Regions from separate parts of the Homo sapiens genome. Here region 2 is linked to region 1. Evidence: fine-mapped expression QTL. A gene starts in region 1. The other region holds a variant in brackets. All regions are shown on one strand. Distances are between the middles of the regions.

Region 1 (12,648 bases):
TTTTACAACAGCTGCAAAAAAAATAAAGTAAAATACTCAGGAATATACCTAACAAAGGAGTTGAAAGTCCTCTACCAGGAAAACTACAAAACACTGCTGAAAGAAATCATAGATGACACAAACAAATGGAAACACATCCTATGCTCATGGATGGGTGGAATCAATATTGTGAAAATGACCATACTGCCAAAAGCAACCTACAAATTCAATGCAGTCACCTTCAAAATACCACCATTATTCTTCACAGTTAGAAAAAAAAATTCTAAAATTCATATAGAACCAAAAAAGAGCCCACATAGCCAAAGCAAAACTAAGCAAAAAAAAACAAATCTGGAGGCATCACACCACCTCACTTCAAACTATACTATAAGGCCATAGTCACTAAAACAGCATGTACCACTATAAAAATAGGCACATAGACCAGTGGAACAGAATAGAGAACCCAGAAATAAACCCAAATACTTAAACAGCCAATTGATCTTCGACAAAGCAAACAAAAACATAAAGTGGGGAAAGGACTAATTATAGAAGATAACATTGGAAAAACCCTTCTAGACATTGGCTTAGGCAAGGATTTCATGACCAAGAACCCAAAAACAAATGCAATAAAAACAAAGATAAATAGCTGGGACCTAATTAAACTAAAGAGCTTTTGCATGGCAAAAGGAACAGTCAGCAGAGTAAACAGACAACCCACAGAGTGGGAGAAAATCTTCACAATCTATACATCTGACAAAAGGACTAATATCCAGAATCTGCAGCCAACTCATGTCAGTAAGAAAAAAAACAATCCCGTCAAAAAGTGAGCTAAGGACGTGAATGGGCAGTTATCAAAAGAGGATACATAAATGGCCAACAAACATATGAAAAAAATGTTCACCATCACTAATCATCAGGGAAATGCATCAAAACCGCAATGCGATACCACGTTACTCCTGCGAGAATGGCCATAATAAAAAAATCAAAAAACAGTAGATGTTGGCATGGATGCGGTGATCAGGGAACACTTCTACACTGTTGGTGGGAATGTAAACTAACACAGCCACTATGGAAAACAGTGTGGAGATTCCTTAAAGAACTAAAAATAGAACTACCGTTTGATCCAGCAATCCCACTACTGGGTATCTACCCAGAGGAAAAGAAGTCATTATTCGAAAAAGATACTTGCACATGCATGTTTATAGTAGCACAATTCACAATTGCAAAATCGTGGAACCAACCCAAATGCCCATCAGTCAACAAGTGGATAAAGAAGCTGTGGTGTATATATATATATATACAATGGAATACCACTCAGCCATAAAAAGGAATGAATTAACAGCATTTGCAGTGACCTGGATGAGATTGGAGAAATTATTCTAAGTGAAGTAACTTAGGAATGGAAAACCAAACATTCTGTGTTCTCACTGGTATGTGAGAGCTAAGCTATGAGGACGCAAAGGCATAAGAATGATACGATGGACTTTGGGAACTTGGGGGAAGAGTGGGGGGGGTGAGGGATAAAAGACTACAAATATGGTGCAGTGTATACTGTTCGGGTGATGGGTGCACCAAAATCTCACATATCACCACTAAAGAACTTACTCATGTAACCAAACAGCACCTGTACCCCAATAGCTTATGGAAAAATAAAATAAAATAATAATTAGATATGTCCCAGGAACTTACTAGAGAGATAAAAGAGTATTTAGAGAGATAAAGACCTGCATCCTGGGTTGTCTGATTCCAGAGACAGTATCTCAACCTTAGTACTACCTGTTTTCCCTGTCTTAGTACTAGGCTGTAGGAGACAACATTAGGAAGACAGTAGTTCCTGGCCTGGTAATGCTGACAGTTTCATAGGAAATAGACGTGTAGCAAATCATGAGACCCCAACAAGGAAAGTATAGTATCAGAGAATGAATCATATGTTATGGGAGCACTTTTAAAAGAGCAGATTTGGGAACACTGACTTTGCTTGTTCTGGGGTTGTGGCAGTCAAGGGGGTCAGACAGTCTTCAGAGGGGAGATAACATTTGAGCTGGGTCTTGAAGAATAGAGTTTTTCTGGCTCTAAGGTGGTGGAGTGGATGACTGTAGGCAGAGAAACAGCATCCTCAAATACACAGTGTCATGTAATTGGTAATGTGTGAGATGACCACAAGATTCTAACCATGGTGGACAAGTGAATAGGAAAAGGAGCAAGTACAAGAAAGTGAGGGAAGAGCAGGACATAATGAATTGAGTTTGGAGCTTGTTGAAGTGGGTGGGTATTCCAGGTCATAATGTCCGATCAACAGTGAAATGTTACATAATACGGGTTTGGAGCTTTTAACAGGTGGTAAGTGAGGTACAGATCTTGGAGTCATTGGTGAGTAATGGATGGTTAAACCAGTGAAGGTGGCTGCGATCACCCAGGGGGACATTTAATTCAAGAGGAGCAGATAATGGAGCATAACATCTTGGAGCCCTGAACTTTAGCTAGCAATGCTACGATAAATGCTACCATTTATCCGTATATGGGTTAAATGGGTTGTTGGAGTTGGCTTAAGACCCTAGCCACCATTTAGAAAAATTTCTATGTAGAACTGCAGAGTAAGTTCAAGCAACTTAGAATTTAATTTGGGGCCACAAACTGAAGTTGGAGCTTGGTTGTACTTCTTTTTGCATATCCTAAATATACCTTTTTACTCTATGGCTCAGTGTGCTGGAACTTGGAAAGCAATTCCTAGCTTAGCCTGCCTACACACTTTGCATTTTTATTGCATTTGAGCATATCTTCAGCTGTACTTGGTATTTCAGGCTTACTTGGTTCATTTGTAATTCAAGTATGATGACATACAACTGGTACAATTAAACTAGGATTGACTGTCATGTGCCTGGCATTGTGTTGAACTGCTGTTTGTTCCCTTCTGCCACTGTGATTAGTACCATAAGGAAATGTGAGTGTGGTGAGTTTTTAACTCAAGTAGGGCCTTTTCAGAGAATAATATTGGTGATAAAAAGGCATTGTTTGCAGCGTCAGGAATACTGATGTGGTGAGACTCTCAAAACCTCTTTCGTAGGCCTCTATGTGATGTTACAGTAGTCTCACTTTATCCAAGGTTTCGTTTTCTGCAGTTTCTGATGAAATCTTGCACCACCCTACTCTGTCCACTCAGGATGTGAATCCTCCCTTTGTTCAGCATATCCATGCAGTACCTCCTCCTCAGTCACTCAGTAGCCACCTCAGTTGTCAGAGCTCCCGTCAAGGTATTGCAGTGCTTGTGTTCAACTAACCTTTATTTTACTTATAGTAGCCCCAAAGCTGCAAGAGTAGCAATGCTGGCAATTAGCATATGCCAGCTAGAAGCTATAAAATACTTCCTTTATGTGAAAAGGTGAAAGTTCTTGATTTAATAAGGAAGGAGGGAAAAATCGTAAGCTGAGGCTGCTAAGATCTGTAATAAGAACGAATCTTCTATCCATGAAATTGTGAAGACGGAAAAAGAAATTCATGTGTAGCCTGTATAGGGTTTGATACTATCCACAGTTTTGGGCATCCACTAGGAATCTTGGAATGTTTACCCCATCAATAAGGGGGGACTACTGTGTTCTATAATTCTTGGTCTCATTTTTATTAAAATAGTGTGAAGTGGTTTATTGGTTTTTTTGTTTGTTTCAAGTACATTTGAGAGAGTGAAACCCTCTGCTCTTTTCTGTGTTTACTGTGTGTGACTATTACTAGAGATCTAGGAATATACTTACTATTTGGCACAAACTGACTATTCAGTGTCTTTGGTTTTATTTGTAATGTACAAAAACAAGAGGTTGGTTCACTGTAAGAGCTGCTTGTATCTTCCTGTAACCACTTAGTAAGAGCAACAGTGATTTACAGTGATTTACCATAACGCCTCTGAGAAAAGAACTACTTTTAATAACTCAGCCTTCGTGTGAGGTAAGGTGAAGGGATATTCTTGTTTCATTAAAGACTGTGACTTCGGCCGGGCACAGTGGCTCACGCCTGTAATCCCAGCACTTTGGGAGGCCGAAGCGGGTGGATCACGAGGCGGGTGGATCACGAGGTCAGGAGATCGAGACCATCCTGGCTAACACAGTGAAACCCCGTCTCTACAAAAAAATAGAAAAAATTAGCTAGGTGTGGTGGCAGGCGCCTGTAGTCCCAGCTCCTTGGGAGGCTGAGACAGGAGAATGGCGTGAACCCAGGAGGCGGAGCTTGCAGTGAGCCGACATCACGCCACTGCACTCCAGCCTGGGTGACAGAGCGAGACTCTGTCTCAAAGACTGTGACTTCAGGAGTTCAGGATAAGTTTGGGACAGTGGTGCTGGGCTAAGAGGAGGGCTTGGCAGGGCTCAGGAGGCCCAGGCCTGGCTGAGTGGAGAGCTGAATGCCTGGGGAAGAGGAAGAGGAAGTGATTCCAGACCTCATGCCTACCCTTGGATTTTCTCAGGACCGCCTCCCCCTTCAGAGCACACCAGTGCAACTTGCAACTGCCAGCAGTAGCATTTATTTGCCTGAGCCCTTGTTTTGCCTCTGGAGCCCATTTTGGCTATCCACATGGCAGGCCAGAAGTTCAGGAGCATCCTGGGAGAAGGAGCAGACCCCTGGGAGAAGCCTTCAACCAGTGACTAACAGGAGGTGGAGTACAGATACCACAGCTCTGTCACCCCTTGGCTTGGATAGCTGATGTGTACACCTTACACTGGCTTCCCAGCAGGCTTCAGCTTGTCACCCACAGTGGTAGCTGGCTTGACAAAACTCTATTGGTTGCTTTCCCTTTCTTGTCACACTTCTCCACTTCCCTATTGGTGTTTGCCTTCATCTCCCAAATGAACCCTCTCACTAGAGTATTTGTCACAGGAGATGCTTTTGGGGAAAGCTAAGAACTAAAACACCTCACCTCTTTCAGAAAGAAAGTTTCAGGCTTCTGGTGTAAATGCCCTCACACTTACAAGGTGGGCATGATGAGCAGGGAATCAAAGTGAAGACATTAGTTAGGTGGCCCAGATTACAAATATGCCGGCTAGCAAGCACCTTCTGTGGTACTTGGAAGAGAGTGCTTGGAAGGGCACTGGCTACCTTTGATTTCTTTCTCTGAGCTTGACGCTGACTATTCCTCTTCTATCCATACACTCTTTGTTGACACTGGGCACAGTCAATTGACTAGGATTCTGTTTTCTAAATGACCATCATATTCCGGCCTTGCCTCTCAAGATGATGCCAGGTCATCTTGATGGAGCAGCAAGTCTACCTAAGCTTTTTTCTTTTTGAGACGGAGTCTCGCTCTGTCGCCCAGGCTGGAGTGCAGTGGCGCGATCTCGGCTCACTGCAAGCTCCGCCTCCCGGGTTCACGCCATTCTCCTGCCTCAGCCTCCTGAGTAGCTGGGACTACAGGCGCTTGCCACCACGCCCAGCTAATTTTTTGTATTTTTAGTAGAGATGGGGTTTCACCGTGTTAGCCAGGATGGTCTCGGTCTCCTACCTCGTGGATCCGCCCGCCTCGACCTCCCAAAGTGCTGGGATTGCAGGCGTGAGCCACCGCGCCCGGCCCCCAAGCTTTCAGTGTTTACAGGCAGTCTCTTGGTTTATTTCCTGGAGCTAAAGATGTATTATTTCATCGGCCTAGCACCTTGTCCCTTCTAGGATCTGTCACATAATCCCCTATTTCAGCCATTTAATCCTGTGAGACCTGCCAGGTCCTTCAGTATAATTGAGGGTTATCTGCTAGCCATCCTTTCCTCCAGACACAGTTGCTTGAAGAGTACATGTGAAGTGGAAAACTGGAGACAAGAGTAATACCTAGGTTTGAGTCATTGTTTGGGTCCCAGCCCAAGGACATTGCTCCCCAGGGCACGTTGACACAATGTAAAGAATCTACATGGTGTTTCCTGTTGGGGGTCAGGGGTGGTTACCAGTAGTCAACCAGATATTGCATGTCTTGCACCAGAGGGCAATGCAGTGAGAGATGTATACAGGGGTCTCTGAAAACCTCACATTTAGGAAAAGAAAGCCTTTTAACCAAGGCCAAAAATGTTAAATGGCTTGCCCAAGATTTCACAGCTAGGAAGTGACAAAGCTGGGATTAAACCCTAATTACAGAGCCCATGGTCTTTACTACAGGCTTGTGGGTGGCAGAGGACCCAGTGACTGGGAGAGTTTTCACAGTGGAAGTGAAAACGGGTGAGCAGGATAGCAAGGTTTCCTGAAGAAGTAGATGGGGAAGGAAAAACAGCATGGGTCATAATATCCCTTAAAGATATAGCTTCAAGGACTTCCATGGCAGAAAAATTCAAGTTACCCAAGAGGTGAGCACACAGCTAAACTTCTCTTTTCCTTCGCTTCTTTGATGGTATCCGAACTGCTTTGAAGAGTTTCCTTGAAAAACAAAGCTCCCCAGATTGCATTCCTGGGGGCTGTCAAAGAAACTGTAATCCTTTAATAAGCCCTCCAGCACCTCTGGTATCTGGATACTCCGGGGACTTGGAGAATCCTTAACGTCTCTATTTTTTGGTTTGCCTTTTTCCTGGGACCGCCGGGACGCAGCGATCCATTTCGATATTGAAACTGTGCCAAGGCTAAGGCTTAGGTGGAAACAAATGGAATATATCCTTGTCACTGACCCGGCTTTGCCAGCATGCCCCCTCATCATCCCAAGTGCCCCTGTGGGCTTCCTCCCACCTGCCTGCCCTGCTTCCTTTACAAGAGGCTAAGCCGACACCACGCGAGTGTGTACGCGCTGGGGACTGAGCCCCCGAAGCGAAGCCCTGTCGGAGGAGTTTCAGGCGGGAGTGGGAACGGCTGGGCGTGGGGTCAGCAACGGCGCCACCCGGTAGGGTGGGGGGAGCCAGGCTTGTCAGAGCCAGAGCGCGTCACCGTCGCCGCGAGAGACGCCGCGCTGCCCAATAGGCAGAGGCGCTCCCTAGCAGCCTGGTGGGAGCAGAGATATAAAAGTGCTCCAACAAACCCGGAGCTGGCGTGCCGACCGCGGGCTGGTGGCGGGCGGCGCGGTGCTCCGCGCGTCCGGGCTCCCTGGCTCCTCGGGACGGCCTTGTATGCTGTGCGCCCCGCACCCCGGCTGCGCGCTCCGATCCCAGCGGGAGGGGACGCCCGGCCCGCAGGCTCCCAGGGGAGGGGTGGCTCCTGCAAAATGGTCCCTCACCTCTTGCTGCTCTGTCTCCTCCCCTTGGTGCGAGCCACCGAGCCCCACGAGGGCCGGGCCGACGAGCAGAGCGCGGAGGCGGCCCTGGCCGTGCCCAATGCCTCGCACTTCTTCTCTTGGAACAACTACACCTTCTCCGACTGGCAGAACTTTGTGGGCAGGAGGCGCTACGGCGCTGAGTCCCAGAACCCCACGGTGAAAGCCCTGCTCATTGTGGCTTACTCCTTCATCATTGTCTTCTCACTCTTTGGCAACGTCCTGGTCTGTCATGTCATCTTCAAGAACCAGCGAATGCACTCGGCCACCAGCCTCTTCATCGTCAACCTGGCAGTTGCCGACATAATGATCACGCTGCTCAACACCCCCTTCACTTTGGTAAGGGGCCCGCTGCCTGCCGCCCCACCTTCTGTCTTCGTCTCCCTTTCCTCTCTCAGTTCTCTGGCCTCCCTCTGCCGTTCTGCGTCTCCCTGTGGGTCCCCACTTCTCTCTCCACATCTCTCTTCCTCCTCATTTCTCCTCTCCTCTGCCTCTGTCTTCCTGTCCTAGTCTCTTTTCTCCCTCCTCTGTCATCTCGGTTCTTGTATCTCTCCTGTTTTTCTTAGTCTTTCTTTCAGTCTCTGTCTCTCTCTCTGAAGTCTTTCTGTCTCTCTTCTCTATCTCTCAGTGTCCTCATCTTTTTTTTTTTTTTTGTCTTTCAGCCTCCCTATTCATCTGTCTCTGTCTCCTCACCTGTTATCTCTTTTTCTTCTTGTCAGTCTCTCTGTGATTTTATTTTTCTATTCTCTCTCCTCTCCTCTCCTCTCCCCACCTCTCCTCTCTTCCTCTCTCCCCTGCCTCACTCTCTGATTTCTCCCCACTTTTTTCTGTCTCATCGCCTTATCAGCCAGAGCTTCTGCGGCGGTGGCATTGGGTCAATGGTTTGAGTGTCTGCAGCCAGCTGGAAATGAATGACCATTTCCTGTTTAATCTCACTGGGTCTGGGCTTGCTTGATAATTGAGCAGTAAATCAATGCCCCTGAAATGTCAGCAGAGATGATCAGGTCCCCCTCCCTCTGAATTGCAGCCTGTTCAGTGCCCAGCCGTACCCATGGGATACTGCTTTGTGCTACAACTGAAATATCAAACAATTGCTAATTGTTAATGGAACATTAAGTGCATTTTCCCAGACCACTTATTTAAAGTGCATTTCCCTTCTGTGGGTTGATAATGAGGCTGTGTTTGAGGTCTGTGTTGAGGAAGAAATGAGGGGAGGTGGGCTTGGGCCCCAGAAATCGGGCAGGCTGGGGGCATTTGCACATTGGCAGCTGATGGGATTCTTCCCCAAGCCCTGGCTACTTAGCGCTGGTGGTGTCCCGCTGTGACCGGGGAGTGTGGCTCTCATGGATGATTTGGGACTGTAAGGGCGATGACTGAGCAACCATAGTGACAGTTATACTGCATGTTTCTCTAGTGTGTTATATTTTTTCATTTTATGGAATAACTTTGTCATTTGAGTGATTACTAAAGCAATATCTATTAATCCCTCTCTGTCTGTCTCCTTGCCATCTCTCATACACAACCAGATATAACAGACAAGCAAAAAACACAGGATGAACCCCCACAAGTCCATCACCTGTGTGAACATCCTTCCAAATCTTATATTGAAAAAGTACCCTCACATTCTCTTTCTCATCCTCACTTATTAGAATATTACTCACATTTTGCAGATGAGAAAACTAGGGCACAGAGAGGTTCAATCCCTTGTCCAAAGCCACCTGGCCAGTAGTTGGCAGAGCCAGGATGAGAATTCCATCCCCTAACTCAAATCCAGAGGTCGGTCCACTAACCAGCCAGCTGGGAGTGAAGGACACTCTTGGACCATGTTTAGCTTCTGCTACTCCAAACCCTGGACTTGTTCTGATCTCCTTTCAGCCTACGTCTAACGTATTGATGGCCACTTAATATCCCCTGGGCATTACCCAAGGATGAGTGGGCTTTCAAATACTCTCCTCCTCCCTGGGTGTCTCAAAGCACAAGACAACAGCATCCCTGTCACCCGTTGGCGCCTCCCTTGGTTTCTGACCTGAGAATCTACAGTGGTACGGTTGGGCTGTGCTACCTAGGTTGGGAACTGGGAAGCCACAGAACATGGCCTTTTTTGCTGCTGCCCAGAGCCAGGATACAGGGCTGGATCTGCAGCAGACACAAGAAGGGGTAGGGAGGCCATGGACGCGAGGACAGGCTACACCTGAGAGCTGGCAATACCTGCCCCAGAGGATCTCCTGCAAGAGACAGGATGCCAAGGTCCTCAGAGCCCAGCACCCCCTCCAGTATGAGCCAAAGCAGCTTAGCCTTGAACCTGACCCATCAAGCTGCCCCAATCCAAACTTGGATTACAGTTTATAAGGTGCTGGCAGGTAGGAAAGGGAGAAGGTTGTGGGGAGGGACTTCCAACCCCTTGGCCTTACTCAGCACAGGCTCCCCCATCGGGAAAGGCATCCCTGCCTTTGCCTGATTGGCAACAATATCCTTCTTCCCTGGTCTCCCTTCCTGTCCACTTAATCTACTGCAGTCAGCATGAAGCCTAGCTCTGATGATGGACAGAAAAGCAGACAATTACTTACAGTTCCCATGGTAGATAAAGATAGATGCACAGAGAACGTAGAGGAGGGAGTCTTTCATTCTGACCCATCAGAGTCCCACGAGAGGGTCAAAGGAGACTGCAAAGAATGTGACATTTCAACAGGACCTGACTGAATAGAAATTTCCCGGGTTGAGATGAACACTTAGTGCAGACAGAGGGACCAGGGAGAACAAAGGCATCGAAGCATCAAAGTTCACTTTGTGTTGAGGGAACATTGAGTGGCTCAATGAAGCTGGAGCATCAGGAAGCACAGCGGAGGAGTGGGCAGGGGAGGGAGAAGCGGAGGTGGCCAGAAGGAAAGGCGGGGCCAGGTTGTGAAGGGGCCTGGATACTCTGTCCTGAGAGCCAGGATGATTCCAAACAGGAGGGTGACAACAATATGATTGTGGTTAGCAGAAATGCTGTCAGGAGTGTGAAGGCTGAATTCCAAGGTGACAAACCTGGAGAACTGGGAAAGCTGTTCAGAGGCTATAATAGTCCAAGGGAGAGATAATGGGGTACCCCACAAGGCCCATGGCCTTGGGACTGAAGAAGAGGGAACAGTTTTGAAAATCAGTGAGAGGCAGAACTGGTTGGATTTGGTAATCCCAATGTGAAGGGTGAGAAGTTGGAATAGCTGAAGATTTCTAGCTCTATAATGTTACTGAACTGCTCAAAAGCCTCAATGGCTCCTCCCTGTCCTCTGCAAAGAAAGTAACATCCCTGGTCTGTTGTCCTAGTTTCAAGATCTGGCCGGACTTGACATGACTCTTGTTCACACACTCCAGACAAGCCAATCCACTCCTTATTCCCCAAACAGGTCCTGGGATTTCTGATCCAGTGCCAATGCCTTTTGTCCTCATCTCCACATGTGCAAATCCCTCTTCAGTTCAAATGTCTCATATGTTGTAATAATGGCAGTTGATAGCGTTAAGTACTTGCTATGTACTAGGCACTGTTGTACCTACTTTACATGTGTTAACAATCTTGATTGATGTAACAACCATGTGAAAAGGGTTAGCCCATTTTACAGATGAGGAAAGTGGGGCTCAGAGGGCCCAATGCCTTGCCCAAGGTCACAGTGATCAGTGGCAAACACCCTGCTGTAAGTCACTACATTATACTCCTTCTCTTGGGCCAACTTGCCCTATTTCTATGCCTCTGTGCCTCTGCCCACTCCCATCCCTATGTGGTGGCCCCATTGCCCTTTAATCAGTCTCTACAGAGCACTGATTACTTTCTGTCTTGCACTTGAGTTGAGCCCGCCTCTGCCCTGGCTGCAAACTCCTTAATCAGAATCAATGCTCAATCTCTCTCAGGCATGGGACGTTACTCACAGGAGCTGCTCAAGTACTAATTGAATGAGTAAATAGTGCTGGGTGATGTGGGATAAGGACCGGGCCTGCTTCTAGGGCCCTACACGGTTTGGGGAGCTTGTCTTCTCTCCCCACACCTGTTCATACCTCTCCAGGTCCCTGGGTGTCCTCCCCAGATGATGACTTGCAAGGCCAGTTTAGCCAAGATTTGCCAGCACAGCCCACATGCTATGTTGTGACAATTCAGATATGTCTCCCCTACTAGAGTGAACTTGTGTGGACCAAGAATGAATTTTGTTATTGCACATAAAGATAGCTACTATTTACTTCTAATAATATCTGAACAATCTGCCAGACATTGTGTTTTGCCCTTTACAGACATTTAAAAAATTTAAACCTTATACTAAGCCTATAAGGAAGAGATTTTTTAGGGCTTTTTTTTTTTTTTGCAAATGAGGAAACAGATTCAGAGAGGTTACCTATCTTGCCCAAGCCCTCACAGTAAGAAACTATTAGAGGTGGGAAGTCCAACTCCATAGCACACATCCTTCCCAGGCTCTCCTGGCACCTAATGGAGCCTGGCCCAGAAGCATGATCAGGGTTTGTTGAATTGAATGAATGAAAATGAGTTGTGCTGGAGAAAATCATGTTTACTCCACAATTCAGTATCATAGACAGAAAGAAGGGAGGAGCTGGAGGAATCCCCCTAAGGGCATGCTCCTCAGAGACCTCTAGGGATGGGTGTCAAAGTCAAGGCCTGTCTGTCTCCTAACATCTTTGGGCTCATCTCCAGGTTCGCTTTGTGAACAGCACATGGATATTTGGGAAGGGCATGTGCCATGTCAGCCGCTTTGCCCAGTACTGCTCACTGCACGTCTCAGCACTGACACTGACAGCCATTGCGGTGGATCGCCACCAGGTGAGGGCACCTACCCCTAATGCTCTGCTCTTCCCTCTCTTGCTTCCCTTTCCTGGAAGTTGCAGGGGCTCTGAAGACAGTGTTTTAGCCCAGTTTTCAATGAGTGTGTTTCTCTTCTTATTGATCAACATGAACACATAGGTTAGGGATATTAAGCCCTTTGTCATAATTTTTTTTTGAGACAGAGTTTCACTCTTGTTGCTCAGGCTGGAGTGCAGTGGCACCATCTCGACTCACTGCAACCTCCGCCTCCTGGGTTCAAGCAAATCTCCTGCCTCAGCCTCCTGAGTAGCTGGGATTACAGGTGCTCGCCACCACGCCTGGCTAGTTTTCGTACTTTTAGTAGAGATAGGGTTTTGCCATGTCGGCCAGGCTGGTCTCGAACTCCTGACCTCAGGTGATCCACCCGCCTCAGCCTCCCAAAGTGCTGGAATTACAGACGTGAGCCACCATGCCCGGCCATTGCTGGCATTTTCTGTCTCAGAAATTAGTGAGCTTGTTTGAGGATAGAAAAGCAAACCCGGAAAATCACAGATGAAAGGAGAGAGGAGTAATTGCAGGTCAGAGATGAGTGAGAGATGAATATTCACCAATTCAGGCTGTTCAGACGGAAAACAAGCCAGGATGTCCAGGTGGCAGGAGCAGGCATTGCAGTGGAGCATGGTGGCCCTGG
Region 2 (12,648 bases), 200 kb after region 1:
GGGTGGATCACCTGACATCAGGAGTTCGAGACCAGCCTGGCCAACATGGCGAAACCCCATCTCTACTAAAAATACAAAAATAAGCTGGGCATCATGGTGGGTGTCTGTAATCCCAGCTACTCTGGAAGCTGAGGCAGGAAAATCGCTTGAACCTGGGAGGCAGAGGTTGCAATGAGCGAAGTTTATGCCATTGCACTCCAGCCTGGGTGACAAGAGTGAAACTCCGCCTCAAAAAAATAAAAATAAAAGGACATTAAAAAAGGAAATTGAATTTTGCCAAAGGCCTTTTCTGCATCTATTGAGATGATTATATGGTTTAAATCCCTTATTCTGTTAATGTGATATATCACATTTATTGATTTGCATATGTTAAATCATCCTTGCACCCTTGGGATGAATTCCACTTAATCATGGTGTGCAGTCCTTTTAATGTGTGGTTGAATTTGGTTTGCTAGTATTTGGTTGAGAACTTCTGAATCTATGTTCATCGGAGATATTGGCCTATAATTCAGTTTTCTTGTCTGGTTTTGGTATTAGGGTAATGTTGCCCTTGCAAAATGAGTTTGAAAGTGTTCCCTCTATTGAATTTTTTGGAAGAGTTTGAGAATGATTTGTATTAGTTCCTTAAATATTTGGTAGAATTCTGTAGTGAAGTCATCAGGTGCTGAACTTTTCTTTGATGGGAGGCTTTTTATTACTTGTTCAATATCCATACTCATTATTGGTCTGTTCAGATTTTCTCTTTCTTTGTGATTCAGTCTGGTAGACTATATGTTTCAGGAACTTACTTATTTCTTCTAGGTTATCTAATTTGTTGGTATATAATTGTTAATAATAGTCTCTTATGCTCCTTTGTATTTCTGTGGTATCAGTTGTAATGTCTCCTTTTTTCTGATTTTGAGTCCTCTCTCTTTTCTTCTTAGTCCAGCTAAAAGGTTATCAATTTTGTTTATCATTTCAAAAATCCAAGTCTTAGTTTTGTTCATCTTTTGTTTCTCTCTTTTTTATTTATTTCTGCTCTGATTTTCATTATTTTCTTTCTTCTATTAACTTTAGGATGTTAGTTTTTATTTTTCTAGTTCCTTGATGTGTAAAGTTAGGTTGTTTATGTGAGACTTATTTTAACTTCCTGTTGACATTTTACCACTATAAACTTCTCCCATAGAACTGCTTTTGTTGCATCCTATACAAATTATTATAGCTATTGCTATTTTTAATACTTTCATCTTTTAACCTTTATACTATACTTATAAGTGATTTACAAAGAACCACTACAGTATTATTCTATTTGACTTAGCTTTACCACTGAGTTTCAGACTTTCAAATGTTTTCATGTTACTGATTATCATCTTTTCATTTCAGCTTAAAGAACACCCTTTATCATTTCTTGTAAGATAGGTCTAGTGGGAATGGACTCCATCAGCTTTTCTTTGTCTAGGAAAGCTTTTCTTTCTTCTTCATTGCTGAAGGACAGCTTTGATGGGTGAAGTATTGTTGGTTGAAAATTTTTTTCTTTCAGCATTTTGAATGTATCATCCCACTCTCTCCTGGCCTGTAAGGTTTCTGCCAAAAGCCTGCGGATAATGTTAGAGATTACTTTGTATGTGACAAGACTCTTTTCTGTTGCTGCTATCAAAATTCTCTTTAATTTTTGATAGTTCAGTTATAATGTGTCTGTGAAGTCTTCCTTGAGTTGAACCTATTTGGGATCCTTTGAGTCTCGTGTACTGGATATCCACATATCTCCCTAGGTTGAGAAAATTTTCAGCCACTATTTCTTCATATAAGTTTTCTGCAACCTTTTCTCTCTCTTTTCCTTCTGATACTTTCATAACATGAATGTTAGCTCTTTCTTGATGGTATCCCATAAATCTTCTAGGCTTTTGTCTTCTTTTTTTAATTCTTTTTTCCCTTTTCCTCCTCTGACTCAACATTTTCAAGTAACCTGTCTTTGATTTCATAGTTTCTTTCTTCTGTTTGACCAAGTCTGCTGTTAACTCTATTGCATTTTTAAATTTTATTCCTTATATTCTGTATCTCTGGAATTTTGTCTGGTTCTTTTTAAGTGACTCCTATCTCTTTATTGAACTTTAGTTCAGGTATTGTTTTCTTGATATCATTTAGTTTTTTATTTGTGTTCTCTTGTAGCTTTCTGAGCTACAATGGTTAAAACAATTACTTTGAATTCTTTGTCAGGCAATCTGTAGATGACCGTTTTTTGGCATCAGTTACTGAAATATTATTGTGTTATTTTCGTATTGTCATGTTTCCTTAATTTTTCCTGTTCCTTGAGGTCTTGTATTGCTGTCTGTACACTTGAAAAAACAATCACTTTTTTCAGTCTTTACTGACTGGCTTCAGGAAAAGGAAAGAAATGCCTATACCAGTTATCCTGCCTATGGATTCTGAGGCTCACTCAAAACTTTTTTATGAATGTGCCTGTTTCATACTTCTTGTTCCCTTTTGGCAGGGAATTCTTGAGATTGTATTGCCTCTCTCAATCCCACAAAGCCAGATCAGATGTTGAAAGCCTCTCATTTGTTTTCCACAGGGTAGTGCCCTGAAACGCTCAACTTTGTATGCCTTCTCCTAATCCTGTACAGTCAAGTCAGCTATCTGCATGGGATGAACTTACCATCCACGGGGACAGGCTTGAGGAGGAGCTGGCCTGGGGAGGGAAGATGAGGTGCACAGAGCATTTGGGATGCTGGTGGATCAGGTGTGGAGGGGGTCCATAGATGAGGTGTCCCAAACAGCTCATGGGCAATCTTCCTGATGGAATCTATGGAGCAGTTAGTAGGGTACACAACATCTCTTCCTTGCTCCCAGACTCTCCCAGCCTGTCAGCTTTGCTGATCACCTCACTAATACAGGTGAGGTAAGAAAGAGGTGGGCCTCGTTGGCAGCACCTTGCATGACTGGGAGAGATGGATGGTCACTCACTATGCTCTTACTTTCCCCTATGGGAGAAATGGGACTGGGTGGGGGTGTCTCTTGGCACCAAGCTATGCCACCATAGAGGAGAGGTGATGTGCGTAATGTGAAACTCTTTTTGTATATTTTATGTTTTAAGAGACAGGGTCTTGCTCTATCTCCCAGGCCGGAGTATAGTGGTGTGATCATAGCTCACTGTAACCTGGAACTCTTGGGCTCGAGTGATCCTCCTGCTCTAGCCTCCTGAGTAGCTGGGACTGTAGGCACATGCCACTATTCCTGGCTAAGTTTTGTTTTGTTTTGTTTTTAACATTTTTTGTAGAGACAGAGTTTCACTGTGTTTCCCAGGCTGGTCTTAAGCTCCTGAGACCTCAAGTGCTCCTCCCACCTTGACCTTCCAAAGTGCTGGGATTATAGGCATGAGCCACTGCACCTGGCCAAAACTGTTCTTCTTACTCTTTTCATGCATCTATTCTCAGATTTTTTTCTCCAACAGTGTGCTGGAACTTCTCCACTGGTATCGTGCCACCGCACTCCAGCCTGGGTGACAGAGCAAGACTCCATCTCAAAAACAACAAAAACAAAAACTTCTCCACTGGACTCCCAGACTCCCACTATTCATGAGTACTTGTCAAAACTGATGCCTCTGCAAAAGAATAACAGTAGAAAGCTTCTATTCTGTCAACTTGCTGACATCCCAAAGCTGGTTTATTAAGAATGTCATGCTTTGTATATAATATTGATAATAAAAACAATAAATAATTTGTTTTGAGCACCCTCTGGCCTGATAACTTTGTATATGTTATCTTATTTAACGATGACATTGGGAACAATAACATTTGCCATATAGTGTGGATTTTCATAGGCTAGCCTCTGTGCTTTATGTAAATTATTCAATGGCGCTTATCAACAAACTTACATTGTTATCTGCATTTAACAGATGGGGAAATTCAGTACGCTCATATTTAAGTGGCTGACTCAGCATTTGAACCCAAATCTGTCCAGGACAAGGGCCATACTCCTCTATCCACTAGGACACTCTGGCTTCCTCACAGGGAACAAGGTCATGGCCTATGCAGCTTAACCAAGCCCTGAAAACCTCTCCCACCCCAACACACATAGGTGCAGCTGGTACATCCACATGCATTCTGGCCCTGTGACAGTCAGGGCTCCTATTAGCTGATACACAAACAGAGAGAACACAACCCCCCGGGAGTGTTTCATTAGACCTGCATGTGGTCTGTTAATAGATGTTGCTCTAGCATATTCAATGGTACCAATTTGGCCCCTGACTTTTTTTTTTCCACAAAAAACCCTCAGTGGTGTATCATGGAAGCGGATCTGGAAAGCCAGACTGACAAACTTAGGCTGAGAGCTAGTCCTAACTGCTTGTCTTTCTTGGGTTAGGTCAGACCCTCATGATTCTCAAGCACCCTAAGCCACCTAGCAGAGTTCTAAGCAAAAGGTTGCTTCCCTGACCCAGCAAATCCTCAGTTTCTTTGTCTGAAAAACAAGATGATTAGACTAGGGAAGTATTTTTCAAACTTGAAAGGTTTTGTTCATAAAAACAACTTAGACTTAGCATTGACAACCATTTTTTGTTATATAATGCATTTTTCACATCTGTTTGCTTGTCTTTTTTTCCCTTTAGTCTGTTCATGTTGCCGTAATGAAAATACCAGAGACTGGGTGGTTTAAGCAACAAACTTACTTTCTCACAGGTCTGAAAAAGGCTGGGAAGTCCAAAATCAAGGCACCAGGAGGTCCAGAGCTTGGTATCTGTTGGGGGGCCACTTCTTGGCTTGTAGAAAGCACTCTGCTTTCTACCTTACTTGTATCATTTCATTCATTTCTCCTAGCAACCTAAAGGCACAGATATTATTCCAATTTTACAATTGAGGACACAGAAAGTAAAAGACTTAACTAAAGTTAAGCCTAATCAGTGAAATAACTGAGATTTGAACCCAGGTCTAGATTGAGCCTAAAGTACCAATACCCATAATCACTGTGTAGGCTGCTTCTAATGGAATTTTCCACATCACAGGTGCCCTCATCTCCCGTCTCCATTGCTTTTTTTCATCCAGATTTACCACCATTTCCACCTTTGTTTTGGAGCTTCTTGCTGTCCCTTCACAGGGAAGGGAAGATGGAGAGGAGAGAGAGATAAATACATTTTATGCATATCCATATTCCCAGCCTATTGCACAGTCCCTGGCACACAGTGGACATTCAGACAATATTTGATGAATAAATGAACATATGTATAAATGAGTAAAGGAATGGATGGAAGACTGGATGGATGGATGGATGAATGGATGTCTGAAACAATCAGGAGAGTTGCTGAAGATGTGGGAATAACCCATGATGTCGTGGTAGACGACCTCTTATACCACAGGACGAGAAGTGATAAAGAAATGGAATATGAAGACCTTATTCCAAAAAAGCATAGATGTGGCAATGGCATGAAGCCATCAATGAATGTAGTGATATCTCAAACAGACCGCACTTAAAGTTTACTTGTCTAGCCAACACATATTAATAAGCATCCATTATGTATATATGAGTGCATGTTGGCACTGTGCTGGAAGCTCCAGAATCAGAAATGAGTAAGACACAGCTTGTACCCTTAAAAAATTCTTGGTTATGAGGACAGACAAACATATAAACAGAATTTTTACAATACAGTCAGTCTAAAACAGAATGTATCAATCAGTATAGGTCAGTTAATACTACAGTAACAATCGACAACTTTCAGTGTTTTTAATCAACAAACCTTGTCCTAAATGTTCATGGCCTCCACTCATATAATTCTCACTCTAGGGCCCAGGCTGACATAGCAGCTGTTGCTGGTTGCTGTGGCAGAGGGAAAGGAACCCTAGTACACTGTGCCTTAGCTCGTAAGGAGCATGTCACTTTCACTCATGTTTGCTTCATCAAATTCATGTGGCCATATTTAACTCCAAAAGGGCTGGGAAGAATTTAACTCCAAGGGGGCAAAGGGAACACTGGAAGCATCTGGTAATTATTAAACAGATGTATAAATAAACTGCACTGGGAGTACACAAAAGGGCATTACTATGAGTGAGCAGCCAGGGTCCTGTTCAAAGAGGAGCTGCCGTTTGAACTGAGTCATGAAATGCATGCACTCGTCACACTGATGCACAGGGTCTAGGAGGTTAGTCTACAGGGAGGTCAGTCACCTTCATGCTGTCTGGAGGTGCCCCAGGGGTCCCTATCATTGTGCAGTGTACAGTGACAAAACTCCATCTGCAGTATGTGTGGTGGTTTCAGCTTCACTGGAGACATTATGATGATGCTGAAAATTACTAATTTTTTTTTCTTTTTTCTTTTTTTTTAGACAGAGTTTCATTCTTGTTGCCCAGGCTGGAGTGCAATGGCTTGATTTTGGCTCGCTGCAACTTCTGCCTCCCAGGTTCAAGTGATTCTCCTACCTCAGCCTGCTGAGTAGCTGGGATTACAGGTGCCCGCCACCACACTCAGCTAATTTTTTTTGTATTTTTAGTAAAGACAGGGTTTCACCATGTTAGCCAGGCTTGTCTCGAACTCCTGATGTCAGGTGATGCACTCACTTTAGCCTCCCAAAGTGCTGGGATGACAGGTGTGGCCATCACTAAATGAACACTTAC[C/T]CTGTCCAGGGAGGTTTATTGAGGCAGAATGCTGGGCAGCTCAGTCACAAAGGACCACAAGTTTCGACTATGACATCATGTTCAAACAATTTATAAATAAAATCACAAAGATTTCCTGAGAAGAAGATATTTATCATTCAGACTTTGTGTCTAATTTCTAGACACAGAGTCATGAGGAACCTTGAATTAATATTTTCTAGAATTCCTATAATCTTGCATTGTATTTTTGTACTAAAAAAGTGATAATTCAAAAAAATGTATACATAAAGCTCTTCCTCAATTTATGTAATATTGTTGCTATTCACTTTCTATCTAAGAGCCTTAAAAAATGGGAGGTCTGCATCCCTCTTGGCCTGGGCAAGGCTCCCGTAGGTACCAGGCACTCTGCTTTCTAACTTCCTTGTATCATTTCGTAATTTCTCCAGGCAACCTAAAGGCACAGTATTATCTCAATTAAAACAAATGAGAAAATGAAGGCTGAAAGGCTTAATTAACCTTAAGCCTAATAAGTGGAGGAAGTGAGATTTGAACCCAGGTATAGCTTGATCTAAAAGCCCTGACACTTATAATCACTGTGTAGGCTGCTTCTGATGGAAATTTCCACATTGCAGGGCCACTTACCCTCCTTGTTGCTTTTTTTCACCTGGGTTTACCAACATTCCCACCTTTCTCTTGGAGCTTCTGCTTCCAATTGCTCCTCCTGACCCAGATGGAGGTGGCAAGCTGGGAGAAGCAAGCACAGAGAGTCAGCATTTTGTCAAGCATAAAGTCAGGAAGGAATCCCACTGTTGTACTAGAATCTGATGGTTTCCATAGCAACAGAATCAATCAATCAGTTAATCAACAATAAATTGTTGAGCATCATCCATAAACTCAGTTCAGTGTTGCAACTTGAAGGGCAAGGAAGAGGGAAGAGGGTGGGAGCAGAATTATGAAGATGAAGGAGGCACGGGGCGAGCTGTGGGTGTGGGCGTGGGTATGGCTAGTTTCCTGCACCAAATCTGTGCAGAGAGGCCAGAAGTTGGCTGTGATTCAGAAAGGCAGATGGATATCATTCTGAGCTGCTGCTCAAAACTCTAAACCCCAGAGCCACTGTTGGTTGATCCACTGTGTTCAGGTACTTTTACAGAAACCCTGGCAGCTCCTGAATGTCAATAGAGGAGGAATTAGGGGCAGCCATATAGTTGCTTGAGTGTGGGCTAAAGGTTGTGTTGTGAAACTGCATTTATTTAGAAAGCATACTGACTTTTACTTAAATTTAAATTTCAGATGGCCGGGAAGTAGGCGGGTCTAATCAGGAGGAATTAAACTACCCCCTCCCTGTTCTTGACCAAAGTATTTATTAAAGACCTCTTAAGCACATGTCACTTTGCCTTTTCAATGTGGATTTTAAAAGCAGAACAAAGACTGAGGATAATTAAACATACTCTAAGGAATGGTGAATACATTCATAACAAATATAAATTGTAAAAATTGAAATCTACCAGCATTACTACGATGCAGCTCTGATGGCATCTCCAGTTCCTTCTCACTAGGCAATGGGTAAAGTTCTCAGCAGGGAAGGCTAGGACCTGGTCTTCTGTTGCTCTCACTGGCCCACAGCAGTTCTTGGTGGCCCTGTCACTTCCTTTGTTCACAGATGTCATGCCAGTCATGGAGTTAGCTCTCTCCCTGTTAGTTTTAAGGGAGAGAGCTTTTGCCAACTGTATTTCCAGAGCGCTGCCTACTTCTGCTGCCTGCTGCTGTGCAGATCCCTGTTTAAAGACTGGAAATGAGGAGGCAGGAGAGCCAATTCTCAAGCCCCAACACACATAAGAATCACCTTCAGAGCTTGTGAAGAATTCATATTTTGGGGCCTCACTGTCAAGATTTACTGAGTCGGAGGAGGGGTCAGGAATCACTCTCCAAACACCTCACAAGATTCTGAAGCCTGCAGGACCACCTCTGGGAAACACTAGTGTGCATGGTGGTTGGGAGAATGAATTCTAGTCAGGGAGGTCTGTATTTTCACCTCTCATATCTTGTCCTCTCAATTGTAAAATGGGGAAAAGAGCACCTTCCCTTGGGAGGCCAAGTGCCACCCCAGGCCCTGCAGCTAGTAAGTGGCAGAATAAGGCTTGTACTTGCTGGCCCTAAAGTTGCATTTAACCTCGATGTCAGAGTGGGTCTAAAAGCTGTGATATGACTCCTCCCCAGGTCTCCAGCCACCGCAGGCCAAGTGGGGTGTCATGTCCATGAGGATGATAAAGAACATATGAGTAGTGCTCACCACAGAGGATGTACTCAGAAAATGTGTGATGAATAGATGATCAGACAATAATTACAGCGGCATCATTTGTGGAGTCCCTTCTCTGGACTGGACCCTCCACTAGTGCTTCTGAGTCCTGCCCTGGAAGTGGGCCCCACTATTTGTCTATATAGTGACCACTCATGTGACAGCTACCAGCTCTCCCCCTCCCTACCTCAGGACAAATTAGGGGATATGACGCCCTTCATCTAGCTTCTTTCCCCCTCTACTCTACCTCCGTACCCTGTCTCAGAACTCATCTTCCTCATCTATAAAGTGGGGATAATTGACCCTCTTTTTCCTGCTATTGGACTACAAAATGAGACGACGTCAGTGCTATGGACCAAATGTATGTGTCTCACCAAAATTTATATTTTGAAGCTGTAATCCCCAATGTGATAGTGTCTAGAGGTGGAACCTTTGGGGGGTAATTAGATCATGAGGGTAGAGCCCTCATGAATGGGATGAGTGTCTTTTAAGGAGCAGCCAGGGAGTGAGCTAGCTTTCCCTCAGTCACGTGAGGATACTGTGAGAAGGCATCCCTCCACAAACCAGGAAGTGAGCTCTCACCAACAACCAAATCAGCCAGCACTTTGATCTTAGACTTCCCAGACTTCATACTGTGAGGAATACATTTCTGTTAAGTCACCCAGTCTGTGGTGTTCATGTTCTAGCAGCCCAAACTCACTTAGACAACCAACATAAAGTGCCCCCTCCACCATAAAGGATGTTTCTGACCCCTCTGGCTCCCTTCCAACTAAGGATGTGTATTAGTCCGTTTTCACGCTGCTGATACATACCCAAGACTGGGAAGAAAAGGAGGTTTAATTTTACTTACAGTCCATCATAGCTGGGAGGTCTCACAATCATGGCAGAGGGCAAAAGGCAGTTCTTACATGGCAGTGGCAAGAGACGATAAGGAAGAAGCAAAAGCGAAAACCCCTGATAAACCCACCAGTTCTCGTGAGACTTACTCACTATCACGAGAATAGCACAGGAAAGACCAGCCCCCATGATTCAATTATCTCTGCTGGGTCCCTCTCACAACACCTGGGAATTCTGGGAGATACAATTCAAGTTGAGATTTGGGTAGGGACACAGCCAAACCCTATCAGAGGGCCAACCACATTGGCAGCACTCAGCCCCAGTTCAGGGTGGGCTACACTCATGGGGGTGGGGTGCACAGGGCCATCAGGGATGCCCAGCCCTTGAGTCAGGGTGGGAAGCCAAGATAGTCCAGTGGGCCACAGCTGGTGCTGCCTTGTTGCTTCTGTGAATGTACGTGCCCTCTCAGAACACTGTCTTTTCTTGGAACTGGTGAAAGGAGCTAGAAATGTGTGCAGGGCACCAGGCCTCTAGCATGGCCTATAGTGGGGGTGTCCTCAGGGACCTTCATTGTTCCTTTGGTTCCCAAAAACGCCACTAGATCTTCCTAATAAACAGGTGTTGACAGATTCTGATCCTTCTGGAACAACTTCCCCTTCTCCTAGCTGTCTTCTGCTGGGTCCCCCTGGTTCAGTGCACAGGCAGGCAGTACAGCACAGGGCAGGGATTCTCAGATGTTGGTATGTTTCAGAGTCACCAGGAAGGTGTGATAAATGCACATCCCCAGGCCCTGCCCCAGAGGTCCTGACTCAGTGGGTCTGTGGAGAGGCCCAGGAATCTGCCTTTTTAACAAGCATGTCCACATATTCTGATGCAAGCAGTCCTCTGGTCACAGTTAGCACTGACATGACTCGGGTTTTCGAGTCAGGCTGGCCCAGGATTAGATCCTGGCCGTGTGGTTTGGGCAGGTCATGGAGCTCCCAGGCTTCTGTTTACTCTTCTGGGGAGGGTGCCAACCTACTCATTATTACATAGTAAGGGGTAAACTAGTTCATTTAGACTGTGTGCTTTAGCAAAGCACCTACCACAGCAGGTGCTTTGTGAAGGAAACTTTTCCTAGGGCCAGGAGACTTCCCGCCTGCCCCCTAAGCCTGTGCACCACCACCTGAGTGCATGTCTCTTCTGATGACATGATGGGGAGTTATCTGAGGGCAGGTTGGTTGTCGGCTTGTTCTGGGGGCTGCAGGAAGAAAGAGGGGACCCCAGGGTGGAGGTGAGCTAAGAAGAGAGAACTTGTGAGGTGGAGGTTGCAGTGAGTCGAGATCACGCCACTGCACTTTGGCCTGGACGACAAGAGCGAAACTCCATCTCAAAAATAAAAAAATAAAAAAATAAAACATGAAAATACGGTAAAAAATTACTGAGAGTTCTACTGTAAGGCCAACAACAGATTCTAATAAAATAACCAGAACTAATATTAGGCTTCACCTGTGCCAGGCATTGTAGTTGCTGACATCTGTTCCCTCTTTTAACCCTCACAAGAGTCTTCTGGAGTAAGTGATATTATCATTATTTCTTGGTTGAATATTGTGTTGTTAGAAGATCAAGGAAGTTCTTTAAGTTGTGCAGCAAAACTGCATCTGCTGGCCTTCAGAGCCTCTTTAAATCCAGTTGAAAAAGAATTCCTCAAACTAGTGGCACTTGACCAAAATGTTACATGTTGATAGAAAAATATGCTTAAATATGTGTCAGAAAATTATGATGCTCTTTCCCTTCTGAAACAATTCAGTCCTAAAATCATTAAACAGGTGACCAAGGCAGCTTGGTGCAAAGTATAAGACCTCAAGACGAGCAAGGAGGTGGACACTCTGGTGATAACCGTGACTCTGCTGGGCAGTCCAGACTGGGCTTATGAAAGGCAGCAATGCATGGAGGACCCTCACTCCATAGACAGTCAAGCATTGCATAGTGATAACATTTCGGTTGAGGACAGACTGCACATACAACATACCTTATTTTTAAGGTATTACTGCACCTTTTCTACGTTTAGAGTTGATAGATACACACATACTTAATGCTGTGTTACAGAATTCAGTACAGTAACATGCCGTACAGGTATGTAGCCCAGGAGCAATAGGCTGCATCATATGGTTATACGATCTAGGTTATAGTAGCTAGGTTTGGGTAAGTTCTCCACGATGTTCACATGACAGAATCACATAAAGAAGCATTTCTCAGACTGTATCTACATTGTTAAGTGATGCATGACTATATTTCTATATTATCCGATTTTCTTTTGCAATAAATGTATACTCATCAATAGCTTGCATCATCTTTGAAAATTAAAACTAAAACTAATAAATGACAAAAGAGAAAGGAGTAGAAAATGAGAGGAGCCAGTGGCCTGTTTTGGGATTCACCTTCTGCCACCCCAGCCAGGCAGGGCAGGATGAGCTGGCAGCCCTGGCCCGGGGAGAGGAGCGCTGAAGCAGGCAGAGTGTGTGTCTCCGGCAGTGCCCACGCGGGTTTGCACAATGGCCCTGGGGGCTGGGGTTCCCTGGGTAGCTTCTCCAGCCTCCGCTCCAAATGCTCGGGAGGTTCACACCCACAAGGTCCATCTGGCTGTTGCCCGTGCTGAGTCAAAGATGTTCTTGAGTCATTCCAAAAATGCCCACGGCACCTTCACAACTCTGCCATCTTTGCTGCCACTCACACAGGGCCCAGTGACAAAACCTGGGGGTTGAGGGTAGGGTGTCTCGCTGCTCTTGGATGAGGTCGAGTTTTTCTGTCTTAGCAATAGCCTTTCCAGTATCCTTTCCCAGCTGAATTCGCCTCCATTGGGTTCTGAGCAGCAGCTCGAAATGATGTCCTTTTCACTTAACTATTGTAAATGGGTTTCTATTTGAGGTAAGATAAATAGCTATTGTTGAGCTCCTGTAGAGTGCCAGGTACATC

Direction of the effects. Positions count from the first base shown, and alleles are read on the strand shown. Sizes are in standard deviations (SD) of each study's normalised expression.
For the expression in cerebellar hemisphere of the gene that starts at base 6,955 in region 1, allele C in region 2 goes with a higher level than allele T (large effect, 1.3 SD a copy in GTEx).

The links.
Region 2: its variant is fine-mapped to the expression of GPR83 in cerebellar hemisphere (GTEx, PIP above 0.99). The same link has a PIP of 0.9 or more in cerebellum.

What each region holds. Positions count from the first base shown.
Region 1 is chr11:94,395,726-94,408,373 of GRCh38, reverse strand. GPR83 (G protein-coupled receptor 83) reads left to right here and starts at 6,955. Exons shown (of 4, transcript NM_016540.4): 1 at 6,955-7,513; 2 at 11,850-11,975. The coding sequence starts at 7,127.
Region 2 is chr11:94,194,546-94,207,193 of GRCh38, reverse strand. LOC105369435 (a long non-coding RNA gene) reads right to left here and starts at 9,785. Exons shown (of 5, transcript XR_947901.3): 1 at 7,203-9,785; 2 at 4,646-4,797. The variant C/T (reference allele first, on the strand shown) is at 6,582.